4 linked regions of the Homo sapiens genome follow. The protein of the gene in region 1 purifies or fractionates together with the protein of each later gene. This does not show direct contact. Each region holds a gene or a part of one and is shown on either strand. Other genes may lie near its edges.

What was found.
Region 2: the proteins of SERBP1 (region 1) and ECHDC1 purify together in Homo sapiens (affinity purification with mass spectrometry; 2 studies listed by BioGRID and IntAct, with this or other methods). This does not show direct contact.
Region 3: the proteins of SERBP1 (region 1) and FAM162A purify together in Homo sapiens (affinity purification with mass spectrometry; 2 studies listed by BioGRID and IntAct, with this or other methods). This does not show direct contact.
Region 4: the proteins of SERBP1 (region 1) and NCAPG purify together in Homo sapiens (affinity purification with mass spectrometry; 2 studies listed by BioGRID and IntAct, with this or other methods). This does not show direct contact.

What each region holds. Positions count from the first base shown.
Region 1 is NC_000001.11:67,413,403-67,416,902, forward strand, and holds part of SERBP1 (SERPINE1 mRNA-binding protein 1), read right to left. Parts: intron 1,938-3,500; coding exon 1,764-1,937; intron 1-1,763. UniProt on the Homo sapiens protein: Ribosome-binding protein that promotes ribosome hibernation, a process during which ribosomes are stabilized in an inactive state and preserved from proteasomal degradation.
Region 2 is NC_000006.12:127,340,810-127,344,996, forward strand, and holds the start of ECHDC1 (ethylmalonyl-CoA decarboxylase), read right to left. Parts: upstream 2,801-4,187; 5' UTR 2,527-2,800; intron 1,599-2,526; exon of another isoform or gene 1,563-1,598; coding exon of another isoform or gene 1,547-1,562; intron 851-1,546; exon of another isoform or gene 678-850; intron 1-677. UniProt on the Homo sapiens protein: Decarboxylates ethylmalonyl-CoA, a potentially toxic metabolite, to form butyryl-CoA, suggesting it might be involved in metabolite proofreading. Acts preferentially on (S)-ethylmalonyl-CoA but also has some activity on the (R)-isomer.
Region 3 is NC_000003.12:122,390,682-122,394,181, reverse strand, and holds part of FAM162A (protein FAM162A), read right to left. Parts: intron 1-3,500. UniProt on the Homo sapiens protein: Proposed to be involved in regulation of apoptosis; the exact mechanism may differ between cell types/tissues.
Region 4 is NC_000004.12:17,834,979-17,838,478, forward strand, and holds part of NCAPG (condensin complex subunit 3), read left to right. Parts: intron 1-2,180; coding exon 2,181-2,362; intron 2,363-2,648; coding exon 2,649-2,823; intron 2,824-3,500. UniProt on the Homo sapiens protein: Regulatory subunit of the condensin complex, a complex required for conversion of interphase chromatin into mitotic-like condense chromosomes.

The DNA.
Region 1 (3,500 bases):
CTTTGGGAGGCCAAGGTGGGTGGATCACCTGAGGTCAGGAGTTTGAGACCAGCCTGGCCAACATGGTGAAATCCTGTCTGTACTAAAAATATAAACAATTAGCTGGGTGTGGTGGCAGGCACCTGTGATCCCACTACTCAAGAGGCTGAGGCAGGAGAATCGCTTGAACCTGGGAGGCAAGGGTTGCAGTGAGCCGAGACTGTGCCACTGCACTCCAGCCTGGGAAACAGAGTGAGACTCCATCTCAAAAAAAAAAAAAAAAAAATCCTACTGTTAAAATTCTAGGTAAAATGTATCAAGACAAAATTATGGATCACAAAAAAACTACAAGTATTTGCAATGAGCCCTGTCCTAAATTTCTACCAAGGCCTATTTTCATTCCAGAGTAATAATATGGGTTGTTTTCTTTTTCTCTTTTTTTTTGGAGACAGTCTTACTCTGTTGCTCAGGATGGAGTGCAGTAACATAATCTCAGTTCACTGCAACCTCCACCTCCTGGGTTCAGGTGATTCTTGTGCCTCAGCCTCCCAAGTAGCTAGGTTACAGGGATGTGCCACCACACCTGGCTAATGAGACAGGGTTTCACAACGTTGGCCAGGCTGGTCTCAAATTCCCAACCTCAGGTGATCTGTTCACCCAGACCTCCCAAAGTACTGGGATTACAGGCGTGAGGCAGTGCGCCCAGCCCAGTTGTTTTACTTTTTCCAATAAACCATACAAGTAGATTCATAAGCAATTATGTATGTGAATTCGCATTGTTCAGTATTCTTATACTTTTTCCACTTGCTAAATAAGAATGGCACCAATGTGAAAGCATGCTAAGGAACTAATATCTAAGTAGCAATAATCATCAAGGTTGAAAGTCTGAAAAAAGGAATCCAAACTGCTCTTTATAGCCTAAAGTATAAATAACAGAACTAAAAAAGAAAGTATGGGAAAAGCCCATCAACACAACCACCACCTTAAAAAAAAAAGGTTGGTCTTAGAGGGAGGAACAAAGTATCATTACACTGGCAATGGTAAGTTACCCCTGTAATCATCAAAAACAGACTCAATCAAGTAGGTGGGTCCCCAAATTTGTGTGTAAGGTGTTGAGAATTTAGGAGGACATTATGGTTGTTTCCAAGCATCAGATCTGAGTTCAAATCTATCAATTACTTGGGAATTCACCAAAATATTTCTCTAAGAACTTGTTTTGTGCCACATACTGTTCAAGGCATTGGAGAGATTATAGAAAGTAAGCCAAAAATGAATCCCAGCTCTCACAGAAGAGTCTAGTAAAAGAAAAAAGTGTCAACAATCCTAAGTGTCGTAAGAGGAATTATACAAGGAACACAATGGTTATTAAGTGGAGACCTAAAAAGCAGTTAGGAATTATCAAAGTGAACAGACTGGTTTTCAGGTAAGCCTTAGCAAAGGCCAAGAGTTAACCTGATTCACTATACCAGAATTTTCTCATCTGGAAAATGAGAATGTCATCACAGTAACAAGAATTAAATGACATTAAGTACATAAAATGCCTAGCCCAGCACCATGACCGGCACCTAGAAAGAACTCAAAAGGGTGGTAACTTAACACTACTAACAGCACTACACAAAAAGGCATTTAAGTGCTTTAAACATAAATATAACCTAACATGCGGTTTCTTAAAGACACTGCTACTACTTCTACTTATGTTCCCAAAAGTGACATAAGTCTGACCCAGCCAGTGACTTATAAGAGGTCCTTAAATTATGTAAAAGGAAAAGAAAGTCTTAAATTACCTTGTCGGTCCTGCTGCCACGGTTTGGGCGCCCACCACGCCCACGTCCACCTCGTCCTCCCCTGCCGCCACGTCCTGGGCGGCCAAGGTCTCCAAAATTGATCTCCAGCTGAGACGTTATATCATTTGCTGGCTTCCGGAAATGATGGTCCATAACCGAATCTTCAGCATGAGCCTAAAAATATAAGTGAAGATGATTGTGTTATTAGTAGAAAAGTAACATTGCAAAATTTCTAAATAATGAGCTTTCTTCTAAAAAAAACCAAAAATCCAAACTGTACTTTCTGTGAACAAATGTCTCAATGCCTCCACAGGTAACAAGCTAGGGCTCAGCTTTAGTGATCCTGGAGGAAGATTTTCCTGCACTTTTCTCTATCTCAAAATTGCAGGTAATACCAGCAGTCCTCAACTAAAGACATGTATGCTATCACAATCAACCCAAACGGCTGAAGCCCATCCTAGACCTACTGAATCATAATCTTTAGCAGTGAAATCTGGACAAGTACATTTTAAATATGCCCTTCAGATCAGGACTGCCATGTGAATCCTTGATGAAGACCTCTGGAGAGATGACATATAAGGTTACTACTAGCACTAACACTGAAGTTAAAAAGAACACTCAGAAAGAAAAACTCTGTTCTACACTCTTCCAACTACAACTAGGGTAAAGACCTTACTAGATATAAACTTCTCAGAAGCATTTTCTGTTAATACACAACCACTACGTTTTTCTACACAAATTGGAGAGCTACAAATTCAAGTGAAACACTACACACTTTACATAAAGAGGGGAATCTTGTAAAGCTATGCACAAATAAAACCACACCTTAAATGTGTCACAGGAACCTTTTTTTTTTTTTTTTTTTGAGACAGGGTCTCACTCTGTCACCCAGGCTGGAGTGCAGTGGCACGATCTGGGTTCATTGCAACCTCCACCTCCCAGGCTCAAGCGATCCTCCCACCTCAGCCTCCCAAGTAGCTGGGTCTATAGGCACATGCCATGACACCTGGCTAATTTTTTTGTATTTTTTATAGACAGGTTTTCACAGTGTTGCTCAGGCTGGTCTCAAACTCCTAGGCTCAAGCGATCCGCTGGCCTTGGCCTTCCAAAGTGCTGGGACTACAGGCATGAGCCACCATGCCCAGCTAGAAACTTCTTAAAAATGAAGTCATGTTTGTGAAATCCAGATCCTCTTTTCTATTTGCGTTTAAGATACATGACCCAGTCTGGGGGAAAAAAGCAAAAAGCCAGACAATTCTATACTGCTTCATGCCTGATGTCTTCTTGTACGCTTGGGATGGGTTTTAATCTTCTAGTTGAAAACTGTACTTATAGGACTTGAAAGTACAGCTTTCTTTTCCTCTTTTCCTAAATACATCTAAGGAATCTTCTTTTCTAAAGGGATAAAGAACATTTTGTTCTTTCATTAGAACTTGTACTATTACAATTCCATTAGACTCAACTTAAAATATTACAGCTGTTAATAACTAGCCTTTAAAGTACAAATAAATTTTTGTGTTTTTATCCATGTTTTCACCCCTTACATCAACTCATACTAGTATTAAATGTCACTCCTTTGTACCAAACCAACACACTGTAAGGCAATAGAATGTTCTAATACAAATTTTAAAGGAGGCTAGAAACATAAAAACAAATTCACAAAACACCAGCAAATTAGAATCAATTATATATACTAATTGTGTGATTTTTAAATGTTTGCTATTTCAAACCAATGCT
Region 2 (4,187 bases), on another chromosome or scaffold:
AAATAAGGAGGAGGGACTTATAAAAGCATTAGCATTTTGTGGGAAAGTAGAATCAGTAAACAACATATCTTCTGCTCTCATTGTAAAGGGTCTGTCTGCTCTGTCTTGATACATTACCCCTCTCTCCAACATCAACACTACAGCAATTAGTATGAACGCCATCAGATCTATATCCTTTTATCCTCAAATCTTTAAAACATTAAATATTTAAGTAATAGTAGTATTTTGCCTCATTAGACATCTTTGATCCATCACTGAAATGCCAATTTTTCCAAGAAAATCTTGTAATACTTCATGTATCCTTTCTCTATTAATTCCATATTTTCTATCTTCTCTCATTCTATTCCCTCCCACTACTGTCTCTCCTTTTCTCTCCTCCTCTTATATTCCTTGTCTGTGCCAGAAAAACCTGAGAACACTGCTTAAGCCTGCTAGATTCACTGACCCCAAGTTTAGAAATCCAATTCTAAAAATTTTATAATAGCCTATTATGTACACTTTCGTCCCAGTTCTAAATTCAGAGACTATCTTAGACAAAAGCTCAGTGATGAGATGACAAGGTGTTAGTCATTATTAACCTACTATAGTATCTAATAGTATAAAGTGAACAAAGCTTAAGATTCAGGTTCTGTAGAAGTATGTAGTTAAACGATTGGTTTTTTTTGGATTTCTTCCAGAATCACAGGAAGATGAAAAGGTTCTGAAGCATTTACAATTTTATAAGCTTTCTTCGGGGTAAAACTTATGTTTAAAACTTGCCATGCAGGATGTCTTGCAGCCCCACCACAAAGAAGATTCAGTGGAGCTGAACAAGCTCACTACCAAGCCACTGAAAAGAGGAAAGAAAGTCCATCTGAGATCAAAGGTCGCACTTCCCATTTTTTTCAAGTTCTGCAAAGGTGATCTGTTTCCCTTTAGTGCACAGGAAATAAGTGAGATGTTCTCTAAAAGCCTTTACCTGTTTCACCTTATACTGTAATCACTAAATCCAGAAGACTAACGCAAACTCATACTTAAAAAGAAAACAATTAGCCTAGAGCACGTAATAGAAATCAGAAGCATTTGATTTCAGACTGTCTGTATATCGCCTGTTTGTAAAAGTTCTGATTCGGTTGTAGGCTGTCATAACATAAACTACCTTTCAAGGTTCATTACATGCCACCCACAACTCTCTCCCTCACACAGCCAAAATGCACAACTTTCAGTTCCTGAAATCCTTTTGATTTTTTCGCCATCTCAAGCTTTCGCATATGCGATCTACCTGTTACATTTTTGTCTTCCTCAGAGTAACTTCAAATCATCTCCTCTAACATAGGACTACATAAAGTCCCCTTATTGTCTGCTCTCAGAACATCTGTATCTCTCATCACCACTCTCACTCACTCTTTGCTGTAATTAGTTTTTTAACCAGTTCTTCCCATTAGTCTTAGCTGCAAGAGGGCATTTGCAGTGCCTAAAGATAATATTCTTAAGACTAAACAGGGGCTTAAGAATCTGGCCACAAATCAACTCTCCAACTACCCTGTTTATAATCCTCACAACTCACCCTGTTTCAATGCCATGCTTCTTCACAGGCTGGCTTCCCTTCCTGGAATGTTAATCATTGCAGGAATCCCAGCTGATTATACAGTCGCCTTTCAGGCCAGAACCCAATAAAAAATCAAGAAAGGATCGCCCGTTCTATTACTGCGCTGCTCCCTCCCCTCGTAGATTTCACAAATATACTTCTCACCACAAGCTTGTCTGTTCCAAGAGAATGCTAGCTCTTCTAAAGAAGGAGCCCTTTGTTTTCCTTGCCCTTGTCCAGTTCCTCTGCATACCTCTAGCACCTAGAGCAACAACTGCTATACAGGAGCCCAGATGTGGAACAGAGCAAAGAACTGAGTGTTGATTTAATGTTGCCTGAAGTCCTTAACAGCACCTTCAACCTAAACTTAACTGTGTTTTTAATCCCCTACACGTGTAATCCCTGTATGTGTGCGCAGCGTTAAAAGGATTATTGTAGCTCAAAAATTCTCCAATGAAAGAACCTCTACCAGAAAGGAGTTGCTCATCTTTCGTTCTTGAAAAGTTGGCTGCACGATACAAGTAAGAAAAGTTTTAGTTAGGCAAGACAACTTATACATAAAAGACAATTATAGGGAACATTACCTAACTTAGCACAGGGCCTCGAATGTATTCCGAAATTAAATCAGCATGTAGAAAGCAAGCCTCCTCATGCTTTTTAAAGTGTAATCTCGCGACCTCGCGGCGCGCTCTGGGAAGACCGATTCATCTCTTCCCCTCGCCCTCTTTCCCCGGCCGGCGCACAGCCGGCCCGTGGCGCTCGGCACCGCGTCTCCACGTCCAGCGCGGGGCAGGCCTGCGCGGCGCTTGCAAGGGACAAGCCGCGGAGCCGGGGAGGCTCGCCGTCTGGGACACGTTTGGAGAAGCGAGCGGTACAGTCCATTCCACGGCGACATTTTAGGATTCTCCCACTGACAACACTAAACTGAAGCGCTAAGACCAACCCTTACGACCACTTACCGTCGCAGGCCACGGTGGTGACTTCCTTTTCCGCTCCCCTACACACGCTTTTCCGTTTTGCGTGCCTTTGTTTCCGCTCCCCCCGGGACCATCGTGCGCCCCTGTCCTCCGTTCTTGTAGGTCCTCTCCTCTTCTCCGCGTCTTCTCTTTTACTATCCCACGCTCTCCTTTCCTTTCTCCGGGAACTTTATCCCGTTCCCCTGCCGGTTCCCGTGACCCCGGAAATCCCGCTCCTGCCGCGAGGCGCCCTCCGCTTCGCGCTCCCTCGTGTCACGAGGGAGCCAGGGTGGGCGGTCTCCTATTGTACTTGGCTTTTGAATTTTCGCTTTTGCAGCACAAAGGTAGGGCTGGGAAAGGAGGCTGCCGAACCGTGCTTGTTTTCGCTCAGATAAACGTGAGAAAAAGTGGAGGTGAGGAAGCCAGTGTAGGCAAATAGCGAGAGGGGAGAAGACAGAAAGGTACCGAAGGTCGACCTTTTTTAGGTATCTTATCCAAGTTATTGAGGGGAATGGGTATTTAGCCAGTTTTTTGTTTGTTTGTTTTTATCCGAATATCCAGTGTGTGTCTTGAATGTGTGAATGTGACGTGTTTATAAAGCTCAGTAAGCTTAAAATTCCGTGCCAATACATTTTGTATGCCGCAGACAGGAAGTGCTTTGGAAGACCCTTGAAAGGGGAGGTGATTTTACACCAATATTGAGATCATTTTGTCAGAGTCGTGGGACTAAAGGTAGACCTTAGGTAGTCGATGTCAAAGATAAGCGCAGCTGGACGTTAAAGCGGTGAAAACATTCAGTTAACTACTGACAGGAAAGAGCTGAGCTCTATTTCGATTCGTGCAGAGATCATCTGGGCATTTTTAAAGGGACGTTTTAAAAGGAGAAAGGGGATATGCGGGCGCTCAGTAGAGAAAGTGAACCTACAGAGTTGTTAGTGTAAATGTGATTAGGCCAGCTGTGTGTTTGTGTGTGCGCGCGTTTTAACAGTTACCGCAGGATTCTATCCTCCTACGGAGGATTTTATCCTTCTCGATTACATTTCAAAGGAATGACTCTCTGGTCCTTGAGAGAGAACTTCTGAGTGGCAAGAAATAAGTCTTTACAATTGCAAGCCCTTTAGTAAACGTTCTAAGAAAGGGATGTCAGAGACCTATCATCAGTTGTGTGCTGGTTACATCACGTAGTTAAGCTTTCTGAGGCAGTCGCCCTGGGCACAGGGCCTTATGCTGCTAAAGCTTGCTAGAGTTTGGTCAAGTCTCTGAACGCAGGGGTTTAGATGGGATGGTCATGTTCCTGGAGTTCTGCAGTGGTCATAGGTATGATTTGAATAAGTACAGGGAATATTCTAGTCGGAGGAACAGAATGTGCCAACGCGCCGAACAGGGAGGATAGTTTTACGATACGGAGATGTGTATGATAGGGAATAAGTGGGAGCCCAGTTTGGACTAATTGGAAGAAGTCATTATTAGAAGTACTGTATTTAATTCTAGTTTGTTATAAAATGAGACTCCAAGATCACTGAGCCATTTCACTGAGACTCCAAGATCACCCCAATGCTAGGCTAATCTCCATGGCGCCTAGATCTATGCCCACTCCATTCCCCATGTTGGTCCCCATAGTTTCAGGCACCAGGCTCCAACACCAGGTTGGGCCCTACAGCCCC
Region 3 (3,500 bases), on another chromosome or scaffold:
TTGGTGCTGTCCTCGTGATAGTGAGTTCTTATGAGATCTGGTCGTTTAAAAGTGTGTGGCACCTCCCTGATCTCTCTTGCTCTTGCTCTGGACATGTGACATGCCAGCTCCCCCTTCGCCTTCCACCATGATTGTAAGTTTCCTAAGGCCTCCCTAGAAACTTGACAAATGCCAGTATCATGTTTCCTGTACAGCCTGAAGAACGATGAACCAATTAAACTGCTTTTCTTTATAAATTACCTAGTCGTAGGTATTTCTTTTTAGCAATGCGAGACTGGCCTAACACACCTTCCATTCGTGCTCGGACAGAGACTAAATGTGAGGTGAGAGCTTAGAGACCTCTCAGGTTTTTCCTGGAAAATGTGTCCAACCTTACACATATTACATTCTAGAAATATGTCAGAGCTTTCCAGATGTCAGGATGGACATCTCATTCCCCAGCTTCTTGTTTGACCCAGCTGTTACCCACTCCATGTTATGTCAAACAAGTGCTGCTGATTATTTTCAACAAATGCACCAGGGAAAACACTGTTTGCAGTGAATAAACTCCAAGTCAGGTGAAAAAAGATAAGCCCTGTGAGTGGGGTTTCCAGCGAACTGTCAGACAAGTCAAATAGTAACAATTCTCTGCAGCTGGAAGTTTTGGAAAACTCTTAAACCCATTCTGCCTTCTTCAGTGCCTGCAAGGCTGCTGGTTTTCAAAGTAACTGTGATTTGTGAGGCTGTTGGTTTTCAAGACTATTGTGAAGCTGAAAGAAGACAGGAATAAAGCAAGTTAAAACTCCACAAAACTTGCTGTCCTACCACGATTTCAGGCTTTTTTTTTTGGATAAATGCTCCTCAGATTGTCACAAATGCCTGGTAATTTTCCAGAGTTCTGGAAAAGTTGCTTCTGCCAACTTCTGGCAGTGTTATCATTGCTTTTGGGTAAAAATGGATTTTCAGAGGTCCTTACTCTTGACACACCAGAAGTTGGAATCTCTATTTGTGGTTACCTGGCACACAGTCTTTTTCATAAAAGGCCTCATTTATTTTGTTTTCTAGGGCTATAAATGCCAGAAAGCTTTGCCTGGATCTGGCAAACACAACATCAGTGCCACCTAGTGGAAAGGAGATAAATTAACTGCTTTTAGCTTGTTTCCTCATTTAAAATGTGGATAATGCAGTGTTTCTTGTACCAAAGTTGATTTGAGGGTTAAATGGAAAAGCAAATATGGGAGCATCTGGTAAGATGCTTGAAACACAGCAGGCTCTCTAACTGTTAAGTTTATTTTTTTTTTGAAATATTATGTAAAACATTAACTTTGATAAAACTTCTAGAACACTTTTCAATTTTACCCCTAATGTGGTCAGGATTTCTGACAAAGTTAATTATGCAGTTATGAGGCCATGGGAAAAGTCTATGAAACTCTTCAATAGATTTTCATAGCACTCAGGATTAAGACACAATTATTAAATCCTGTGATCTTCAAATTTTAGTGTTTTAGTGTTTGGTGTGAATCAGAGGAATGCCTTGTTAAAACACAAATCATGAGGCTGTCTACCTCCAGTTTCTGCATCCACAGTTCTGGAATGGAGGCTGGGAATTCGCATTTCTAACAAGTTCCTAGGTGATGCTGCTATGCTGGTTCTGGACTATACTTTGAGAACCTAGGCTTTTCTCTCCCCTAAGATGTGGTTAAATATACATAACATAAAATTTACCATTTTAATTATTTTAAGTGTACAATTCAGTGGCATTAAGTACATTTACACTGCTGTGCAACTATTACTACTATCCATCTCCAGGACTTTTTCATCTCCCCAGAGAACCACTGGTTTAATGTGACCTACAAGGCCCCATCTCACACAATGCTATCCCATTCCTCCTTTGGCAGGCACTTACAAAAGGAACAAGGTTAACCGGCAGCAAGCTAGAAGGACTCTGCTCTTTAAACAGAAAAAGAATCAATAATTATTTCCTAAGACAGCTGTCCTTTCCCATTCCTCCTAATTATAGAACAAAGGCAGTTTAGGAGAACAGAAGACAAACTGCCTCTCAGCTAGCTCAGTTTGAGAAATAATAAAGCAAAAAATGCTAACATGTATACCTACTATCAGTGACATCGATGTATGTTGGAGTAATTCATTCAACAAAGTACTTCCTATGTGCCAGGCATTGTTTTAGGCAATATATAAAAAAGATAAAAATCTGTGCCAATAGAACTTGCATTCTACTGGGGAGAAAGTTATACATATGTTAGATACTAAGTGCCAGAGAGAAAAAAATAAACAATGGGGACATGAAGTATGTGTTTGGAATGGGCTGTGTATGAAATTTTACATAGAGTAGTTAGGAAGTCCTCTGTGAGAATGTCACTCTTGAAGGGAAGCAAGGGCTAGCTATGCAGCTATCTGGTGGAAGAATATTCCAAACAGAAAGAATTATAAATGCAAAGACCCTAAAAGATTCTAGAGCCCATAAAGAGAAGGCCAGTATGGCCAGAACAGAATGAATAATGGGAAGACAAGTAGAATTTGATGTGAGAGAGGTACTGAGGTAGTTATGGAGGGTAAGGACTTGGAGACATGAGAGGTTCACCTAGATCAGACTGTATCTCCCAACTTTTTCTTACTACAACTTCATATTGTATGCTAATAACTTTTACCTCCCTACAGTATAAATGCTGATTAAAACATACACACATATTATCTTATTATAGATATTAGAATAATAGACTAATGTAAATATATTTTTTTAAAGATGAGGTCTTGCTTTAAAAATATTTTTAAAAATGTTATCACTACATAGTGAAACCCCACCTCTACAAAAAATACAAAAACTAGCTGGGCGCAGTGGCATGTGCCTGTGGTCCCAGCTACTCAGGAGGCTGAGGCAGAAGGGTGGCTTGAGCCCTGGAGGCAGAGGTTGCAGAGAGCTGAGATCATGCCACTGCACTTCAGCCTGGGCGATAATGCCAGACCTTCTCTCAAAAATAAAATAAAATAAAATTTTAAATTTTAAAAAGTTATCGCTAAAAAATGTCTGAAGTATTTGATGTGGTCTTGGTTTTTATTTTGCAATTATAACAACATGAAAGCATAAACAAACTTTAATATCATTACTAAGACCTTCGTTTTCTCTCAAAGAGACAGAATATATTGACCAGACGTCCAAGCCAGAAATTTTCCATCCTCTGGTGGATCACGATTAAAAACATACAAACCAAAAGAAAAACAGCCCTTTAACCCTCTAGCTGGACTTAACAGCTTGTCCCTGGCTGACCAATTCTGTGTCTCCAGGGCCCTAGCAGGAAGTTAAGATGAAGCCTCACAGCTGTCTCTAAGGCTCTGGGTGGCAAACGGCTAATCTTAAGAGTAAAGGTTCTTAACTTTTTTATCTATCGAAATCACCTGGGGGACCCTGTGAAACAGATTACTGGACCCAACTGATACAGTCAGTATGGACAGAACCTGAGAATGTGCACTTCTAACAATTGCCCAGGTAATGGTGAAACTTC
Region 4 (3,500 bases), on another chromosome or scaffold:
TATGTTGTATTTGTGATATAGAGACTCTAAGATTTATCCCCAAGACTTTTAAGAAATAGTTTAGAATAATTTTATATTGGGTGGGTAGAAGATGTAAGATAGGGTATGGGATTGGATCTCTTTTAAGTACTCTTGAACTACTATTTTTGTAGCACACATGTAAACCAACTGATTAAAAATTTTTTATACTGATTGTAGTTTTTCATTGAGTTAGAAGTGATATAACAAAACTTAATTTTATTTTTTTGAGATAGGGTCTTGCTCTGTCATCAGGCTGGAGTGCAGTGGCGTGATCATAGTCCACTGACCCCTCACCTGCTGGGTTCAAGCAATCCTCCTGAATAGCTGGAATGACAGGCATGTGCCACCATGCCCGCTGATTTTTAAATTTTTTGTAGAGACAGGGTCTCGCTCTGTTGCCCAGGCTGGTCTTGAACTCCTGGCCTCAAGTGATCCTCCTGCCTCAGCCTCCCAGAGTGCTGGGATTACAAGTGTGAGCCCTCGTGCCTGGCCCAAACTAATACTGTTAATGTGAACAATTCATTGGCATTTAGTACATTCAAAATGAAAGGCAACTACCACCTTTATCATCTAATTTAAAACATTGTCATCATCCCAAAAGGAAACTACTCATTAAGCAGTTGCTCCTCATTCCCCCTTCTGCCAGCCCTGACAGCAACCAATCCGCAGTCTGTTTCTATGGATTTAACTGTTCTGGATATTTTGTGTAAGTGGAATCATACAGTATGTGACCTCTGTTTAGCTTTTTAAATTTAGCATAACATTTTCGAGATTCATCCACATGGTATCTTGTATCAGTACTCCGTTCCTTTTTGTAGCCGAATACTCCATTTTATGTATATATGGTGATTTGTTTATGCATTCATCCATTGAAGGACAGTTGGGCTGTTTCTACCTTTTGGCTATTGTGAATAGTGCTGCTTACTATGAACATGGCATGTATATGTATTTGTTTGAGTAGCTGTTTCAATTCTTTTGGGTATCTGTATACCTAGGAATTGTGTTGCTCAGTCATTTAACTTTTTGGGAACTTGACAAACTGTTTTCCACAGTGATTGAACCATTTTAAATTTCCATCTTCAGTGTAGAAGGTTTTCCATTTCTCCACATCCTTATTGACACTTAGGTTCCATTTTTTAAAACATTATAGCTATCCTAGTATATATGAAGTGCTACTTCATTGTGGTTTTGATTTGCATTTCCTTAATGACTAGTGATGTTGAGTATCTTTTCATCTGCTTCTTGGCCATTTGTATATTTTGTTTGGATAAATGTCTGTTCAAGTCCTTTGCCCATTTTTAAGTTGGGTTGGTTGTCTTTATAGAGTTCTTTATATAGTTTGGGTAGTAGATCCTTATCAGGTATAATTTGTAACTTTTATTTTACAGGTTGTCTTTTTACTTTCTTGTTAATATACTTAGATGTATTAAACATTTTTAATTTTGGAGATACACTCATTTTTTTCTTTTGTTGCTTCTGCTTTTGGTGTCCTATCTAAGAATCCAGTGCTAAGTCTAAGTCATGAAGATTTATCCCTGTTTTCTTCTGAGAGTTTTCTGGCTTTAGCTTTTATATTTAGGCTGTTGATGCATTTTCAGTTAATATTTGTATATGGTCTAAGGTCCAGCTTCATTGTTTTGCCTGTGTACATCCAGTTGTCTTTTCCTTTGTCTTCTCTAGACTTTTGTTTACTTTTTCTAGGAATGCCTTCTGCTTCAACACCTTCTGTTCACATTCTATCCATTATTCAGACAAATTGCACTCCTACATATGGAGCTTTTGCTTATAGATAGGCACCTTCCTCTAATACCAGGGGCCAGGGTTTTCTATGTCTTAGAAACCCTAAGCATTTAAATATATGTTTTGCTCTTTTTTTCCAACAGTTATAAAAGGCCTTTTGGTTCTTCTAAAAAGTTTTAAGATAATTGAATTTTTCATGGCTAGACTAAGCATTTGTCTAGTCTCCTAGTCTTTTAGATTTGTCTAAAATTGTTATTCTAGCTTTGAAGAAACAGTCTTTTTATTTGCCTTTAAAGAATTTGTAATAACTCGAATGGTTTTTGGATGGTTCGTGTAAAAATACTGTAGGACAGGCTACATTGAGAGGCTTAAAAAGGAGATACAAATAAATTTCTTCTAATGAATGTCATCTTTGTTAGGTATCTGAACTTAGGACTGGAGCTGCAGAAGGACTAGCCAAGCTGATGTTCTCTGGGCTTTTGGTCAGCAGCAGGATTCTTTCTCGTCTTATTTTGTTATGGTACAATCCTGTGACTGAAGAGGATGTTCAACTTCGACATTGCCTAGGCGTGTTCTTCCCCGTGTTTGCTTATGCAAGCAGGTATTGAGTCATACTGATAAATCAAAAATCTGACTTGACATCAAATTCAAGTCCCCCATGAATTATATCTATAATGATATTTTGTTGTTGATACTTTTTCTGTCTTTAGTAGATAAATGATGAAATGACAAGAACGATACAGATTTTATCTATCTGAATTTTTGGCTCTTTCCTAGATGAAAATGCACTTAATGAGTGAATTTCCTACATAGTAGTTTTGAATTTCATACTTTTTCTCTCATCAAATAATGTTCTGCCAACATACTTTGAATTTGTTTCTCAATAGGACTAATCAGGAATGCTTTGAAGAAGCTTTTCTTCCAACCCTGCAAACACTGGCCAATGCCCCTGCATCTTCTCCTTTAGCTGAAATTGATATCACAAATGTTGCTGAGTTACTTGTAGATTTGACAAGACCAAGTGGATTAAATCCTCAGGCCAAGACTTCCCAAGATTATCAGGTGAGTGACTGTGGTAACTGCATGCAGATCACTGTTTTGGTAAAATAATCTCTCTCAAAGATCCCTTGAAATACTGAGGAACTGCATTTTGGTCTTTAGACTTCTGTCTCAAGCATATACCACAAAGCACGAAAGAAACATGACCTTGGGAAATGTGGAGAAATCATATGAAAACAGAAGTAATCAATGCTAACATTTTTGCTACTGAAAAGAAATTACTAAAAATCCACCACCCACACCATGCCCACCTAGTACTGACTGTTAATCTGAAGTAATAACCTATGTTATCTAGGACTCACAGAGTCTTCAAATGTTGGCTTACCTGCTATGCTTCTGGCACAAGAAAGGAGAATTCAAAGACTAGAACTCACCTCAAGCTTTTTTGGCTTTTAATTCAAAGAAGATAAATCAATTGCACACTGACTCACAGACTGAACTTAAGCTGGGTTGTTTTAATCCTTTAATGGCATTTGGTCAAACTTGTTACCATTTTTGAAATTTAATGTATTAGTGATTTCAGATGCTAACAGATTAAGTTGAAAGTATTACTCTATTTTATTTGATATTTAGTGATAAGCTACTCTGTTCAATTCATATGTTGTATATTATTGGAAAGATAAGATTACAAAGGATATTAGGCAAAATTAGGTAAGGGTCAGTAATAGAGCTATTAAGCA